2 separate regions of the Homo sapiens genome follow, and region 2 is linked to region 1. Evidence: fine-mapped expression QTL. A gene starts in region 1. The other region holds a variant in brackets. All regions are shown on one strand. Distances are from middle to middle. Region 1 holds the start of TMEM167B-DT (TMEM167B divergent transcript). Region 2 overlaps ELAPOR1 (endosome-lysosome associated apoptosis and autophagy regulator 1).

The links. PIP is the estimated chance that this variant, and not a neighbour inherited with it, causes the effect.
Region 2: its variant is fine-mapped to the expression of TMEM167B-DT in fibroblasts (GTEx, PIP 0.98).

Annotation. Positions count from the first base shown.
Region 1 is chr1:109,083,404-109,086,319 of GRCh38, reverse strand. It overlaps TMEM167B-DT (TMEM167B divergent transcript), which reads left to right and starts at 1,570. Exons shown (of 2, transcript XR_947688.3): 1 at 1,570-2,916.
Region 2 is chr1:109,119,980-109,122,895 of GRCh38, reverse strand. All of the region lies in intron 1 of ELAPOR1 (endosome-lysosome associated apoptosis and autophagy regulator 1), which reads right to left. Among named protein-coding and RNA genes, the nearest start is that of ELAPOR1, 7.3 kb to the right of the region's middle. The variant T/C (reference allele first, on the strand shown) is at 1,604.

The sequences.
Region 1 (2,916 bases):
ATTTTTAGTAGAGACGGGGTTTCACCGTGTTGACCAGGATGGTCTTGATCTCCTGACCTCATGATCCACCTGCCTCGGGCTCCAAAGTGCTGGGATTACAGGCATGAGCCACCGTGCCCGGCCTCAAATTACTATTTCTAAAGGGCAGTGATAATGCACACAGTATCTTATGATTAAACAGTTTTCTTTTAACTCCACTCAAAATTTACTTTTTCTTCATTTTCCACGTCTGTCTCTATTCTTCCTACTTTTTTTCTCCCACTCTTAAATTTATTTCTTCTTTCTCCCTCCACCATATTTTTTCTTTTTCATATTGTAAAAGATATTTTACATTTTTTTAATTGAATAGAGTGAGTCTCACCAGGCTATTTCAAAATTAGTTGTATCAAGACTTTTATATTCTAAAATCAAAAAGTTGACCAGGTGCGGTGGCTCATGCCTGTAATCCCAGCACTTTGGGAGGCCGAGGCAGGCAGATCACGTCAAGAGATTGAGATCATCCTGGCCAACATGGTGAAACCCCGTCTCTACTAAAAATACAAAAATTAACTGGGCGTGGTGGCACGCACCTGTAGTCCCAGCTACTCGGGAGGCTGAGGCAGGGGAATCGCTTGAACACGGGAGGAGGAGGTTGCAGTGAGTTGAGGTCGCGCCACTGCACTCCAGCCTGGTGACAGAGTGAGACCCCGTCTCAAAAAAAAAAAAAGTTCAGTTTTCTGTGAAATTAAGTTAGTTCCTTTCTAAGGTTGTTGGAGGATTAAGTGAATTACTATTTACAACAATATCTGACATGAGTAAGTATTCCATAAATGATAGCTATTATTGTTGTTCATTTTGAGGGAAGAGAGAGACCCTCTCATATTGTTCTATACTCAGAAAAGGAAAGAGAAGAGAAACTAAAGGCAGGTAGCCCAGTGCCTAGGAACCACACCTGAAACCAGGCCTAGGCCTGCCTGACCTAAGCCTGGTAGTTAAAATTCGACCCGTGACTTAGCAACTGATGTTATCTATAGATTCCATATATTGTATGGAAAGACATTGTGAAACCTCCAGTTCTGTTCTGTTTCGCTCTGACCACTGGTGCTTGCAGCCCCTGTCATGTACCCCCTAGCTTGCTCAATCGATCATGACCCTCTCATGTGGATCCCCTTAGAGTTGTGAGCCCTTAAAAGCACAAGTTGAGCACCTGAAGAGCTCGGCTCTTGAGACAGGAGGCTTGCCGATGCTCCCAGCCGAACAAACCCCTTCCTTCTTTAACTCGGTGTCTGAGGAGTTTTGTCTGAGGCTCCTCCTGCTACAATTTGTTTTAAAAGTATCTGTGGTTGGCCTGGTGGCTCACGCCTGTAGCCCCAGCACTTTGGGCACTGAGGTGGGCGGATCGCTTGAGCTCAAGAGTTCAAGACTGGCCTGCACAATATAGTGAAAGTCTGTCTCTACAAAAAATAAAAAAATTACCCAGGCATGGTGATGCATGCCTGTGGTCCCAGCTACACGGGAGGCTGAGGTAGCAGAATCACCTCAGCCCTGGAAGTGGAAGTTGCAGTGAGTCATGATTGTACTGCTGCACTCCAGCCTGGATAACAGAGCGAGACCCTGTCTCAAAAAAAAAAAAAAAGTACTTGTCAGTGTCTACTACTGTGTGCTAAGCACTTTGCTTGATTTTGCAGAAATGGGGCATAAATAAGTCCCTGCCCTCAGAGAAGAAAATATGTTGGGTAAGATAGATGAATAAACACATTTTAATAGAACATGAGCATTGTGTAAAGACAGTATCTTTGATTTTCACAACTGTTTTACAGATTTTTTTTTTAATTAAATCTTGAGACTTAAAGAAGGGACGTGGGTGAGATAACATAGCCTGTTAGGATCCATACCCAGGTCTAAGTTCAAAGCTCCCTTTCCCTTGTTATCACACTGCCTCAAATTACAGTGCTTTCCACTGATACTGATCTTTGATTATTTTGTTACAATCATTAATGTTTCTGTCACCCTGGAAAGTCTCATAGCCTCACTGCCACCCAGTGCAGTCATGTCTCACATCAGGCCAAAGCCTGGGTGACCAGCTCTTGCAGCCCAACTGCAAAGAATAAATAGAGCCTACTGGCCTAGGGACTCTCAATTCAGACAGTTCTTCCTCAATTCATTTCAGTGTTCACTGGAGAATTGGTAGTTGTTGCCAAACGCCTGTCAGTCAAGAACAGTGGCCTGTTTGTTAGGGTTGTTGCAGTTATTGTGGTGAACACTAATCAGTCATGGGGACCATGACTGTGGCATTCTGGTTTAACCAAAGAGTAAGTTGAGCCTCAAAGGCACAGCTTGCAACAATAGCTTCATTTGAATTACAACATATTTGAAAAGGGATGTCAAATAGGCATTAATTTATGCTACAAACATTTGTTCCAGGACTTCTAAATCTAAGGAATGTGCTAGCCTTTGGGAACTCAAAGATGAATGAGAAATAGACTCTGTTCTTAAAAAGTTTAAGATTTAGTAGAAAAAGATAAGCTGTGTTTATAAATAACCAAAAAATACAGCAGAAAGTGAGAAGTGTCCAAGGAAAATGAAAACTAAGTGCCAGGGTGGCGGGGGGGTGCGTAGAAATGGGAAACTGCCTTCAGCTGGAGCGTTCAGGGAAGGCTTTATTGAGGAGCAGACATTTTAGCTGGGCCTGAAAAGCTTATAGCATTTCAATAAGCAGAAATAAAGAGCATTCTAGTGGGGAGGGAATTGAGCCATCAAAGCCCTGGAGAGGGAAAGTGTAAGGTAAGATTGGGGCACAGTAAAGCCTCCCTTCCTCCTTCAATGGCTAACTCACATTCATCCCTCAAGTCCCAACTCAGACCTCACTTGCTCAAGGTAGACTTCTCGGACCTTCAGTCTACTTCCCTGATCATGTTTCCAAAGCATACTATATCT
Region 2 (2,916 bases), 37 kb before region 1:
AACCTCAACCTCCTGGGTTCAAATGGTCCTCCTACCTTAGCCTCCCAAGTAGCTGGGACCACAGGGGCACACCATCATGCCCAGCTAATTTTTGTATTTTTAGTAGAGATGGGGTTTCACCATGTTGCCCAGGCTGGTCTCAAACCCCTGAGCTCAAGTGATCTGCCCACCTTGGCCTCCCAAAGTGCTGGGATTACAGGTGTCAGCCACTGCACCCAGTCTCTTTTTTTTTTTAAAGAGAGAGTCCCACTGTGTTGCCCATGCTGGAGAGTAGTGGCTTGATCACGGCTCACTGTAATCTTTAACTCATGGGTTCAAGTGAACCTCCCACCTCAGTCTCCCTAGTGTCTGGGTCTACAGGCGTGGGCCACCACACATAGCTAATTTTTAAAACTGTTTTGTAAAGTTGGGGTCTTGCTATGTTGCCCAGGCTGGTCCTGAACTCCTGGGCTCAAGCAATCTGCTGGCCATGGCCTCCCAAAGTACTGGGATTACCGGGACGAGCCACTACATCCTGCCTTTTTTTTTTTTTTTTTTTTAATGGAAAGGTTATCTGAAGCTGGGCACAGTGGCTCACGCCTGTAATCCCAGCACTTTGAGAGGCGGAGGCAGGTAGATCACTTGAGGTTGGGAGTTCAACACCAACCAGCCTGGCCAACATGGCAGAGTGTGGTGGTGCACGCTTGTAATCCCAGCTATTCGGGAGGATGAGGCATGGGAATCGCTTGAACCCGACAGGCACAGGCTGCAGTGAGCTGAGATTGCACCGCTGTACTCTGGCCTGAGTGACAGAGCAAGACTCTGTCTCAAAAAAAAAAAAAAAGAGCCAGCTGTGGTGGCTCATGCCTGTAATCCCAGCACTTTGGGAGGCCAAGGTGGGCGGATCACAAGGTCAGGAGTTTGAGATCAGCCTAGCCAATATGATGTAACCCTGTCTCTACCCAAAATACAAAAATGAGCCGGGCGTGGTGACGGGTGCCTGTAATCCCAGCTACTCAGGAGGCTGAGGCAGGAGAATTGCTTGAACCCGGGAAGCAGAGGTTGCAGTGAGCTGAGATCATGCCACTGCACTCCAGCCTGGGTGACAGAGAGAGACTCTGTCTCAAAAAAAAAAAAAAAAAAGTAATACACAGGCAAAGAAGACCTCCATTATTGGGCCACTGGAGTATGAAAGATCCATATTTGCAGAAATTGTCTAAATTTCACAAGGCTAGATAGTTCTTGGTAATGTTCTTTTGTCAGAGTTTAGTCCCTCCAGTGTCTAAGGCAGCATTACCCCTCTTTTCAGGATTCATCCTGAATGTAAAGGGAAACTCTAAAGTGTGACTGAGGCAGGAGAATCCTTTGAGGCCACGAGTTCAAGGCTGTTACTTCCATATTCCCTTTTGGCCTATTGAATACTATTTTAAAATAACCTTATTGCTTTTATAACAATGATACTTTCTTAATGTAATAATTCAAAAGCTAGGCACAGTGGCTCACGCACTTTGGGAGGCTGAGGGGGGTGGATCACCCGAGGTCAAGAGTTCGAGACCAGTGTAGCCAACATGGTGAAACACCATCTCTACTAAAAATACAAAAATTAGCCGGGAGTGATGGCAGA[T/C]GCCTGTAATCCCAGCTACTTGGGAGGCTGAGGCAGGAGAATCCCTTGAACCTGGGAGGCGGAGGTTGCAGTGAGCCGAGATCACGCCACTGGACTCCAGCCTGGACAACAAGAAGGAAACTCCATCTCAAAAAAAATTGAAAAAAAATTCAAGAAATACAGAATGCAAAAAGGGACCAAAAAAGTACCAAAAATTTCAAAATTTTGTAAACTGTACCAAATCTGGATACGAAGCGTTATTTTTGCCCACAGGGCACTTCCCTGAAAGACGTTACAATAGCTAAGACTCCTCTCAGATAGAATAGAGAGCAGTAGATAGCTCTTATTGAGTGACATTTCTGTTTTACCCTAAGATGTTACCTACCTTGACACCTTAAGATGCTACTAATTTCCAGAAGCCTGGCCCTAGAAGTTGCTTTCACCTGGACTCTATTTAGTGAGTGATCTGAATGAGAATTCATCTGTCCAGTTTCCAAAATAGAAGAAAACTCATCCCACCTGCGACACATCAGATTACAAAACTGAAAACTGAAGAAAGCTGTAAAAGTCTAGGTAAACACGACCCCCAAGAGCTCTGAAGAAACAGCATTACTTGTGAAGAGAGAGTGTCCCCACAGTTAAGCCCTAACTTGGTATGTCTGGGGCTAAAGTGACTGCCTAGTCTGTTTGGTCTGCTATAACAAAATACCATAGACTAGGTAATTTATAAACAATGGATATTGATTGCTCACAGCTCTGGAGGCTGGGAAGTCCAAGATCAAGGCACCAGCAGATTAGGCGTCCGGTGAGGGCCCATTCCTCAGAGATGGTGCTGTCTACGTGTCCTCATATAGTGGAGGGGGCAAAAATACAGGCCTCTTGTATTTATTTTATTTTATTTTATTTTATTTTATTTTAAGACAGAGTCTTGCTCTGTCACGCAGGCTGGAGTACAGTGGCGTGATCTTGGCTTGCTGCAACCTCTGCCTCCTGGGTTCAAGCAATTCTCGTGTCTCAGCCTCCCAAGTAGCTGGAATTACAGGCATGCACCACCACACCAGCTAGGTTTTGCATTTTTTGTAGAGACAGGGTTTCAACATGTTGGCCAGGCTGGTCTTGAACTCCTGGCCTCAAGCGATCAGCCTGCCTCGGCCTCCCAAAATGCTGGGATTACAGGCATGAGCCATGGTGCCCAGCCCCTCAGGCCTCTTTTATAAGTGCACTAATCCCATAGGATATAATCACCTCCCAAAGGCCCCACCTCTTAATACCATTGCATTGAGGATTAGGTATCAATGTATGAATTTAGGGGGGACACAAACATCAGACCATAG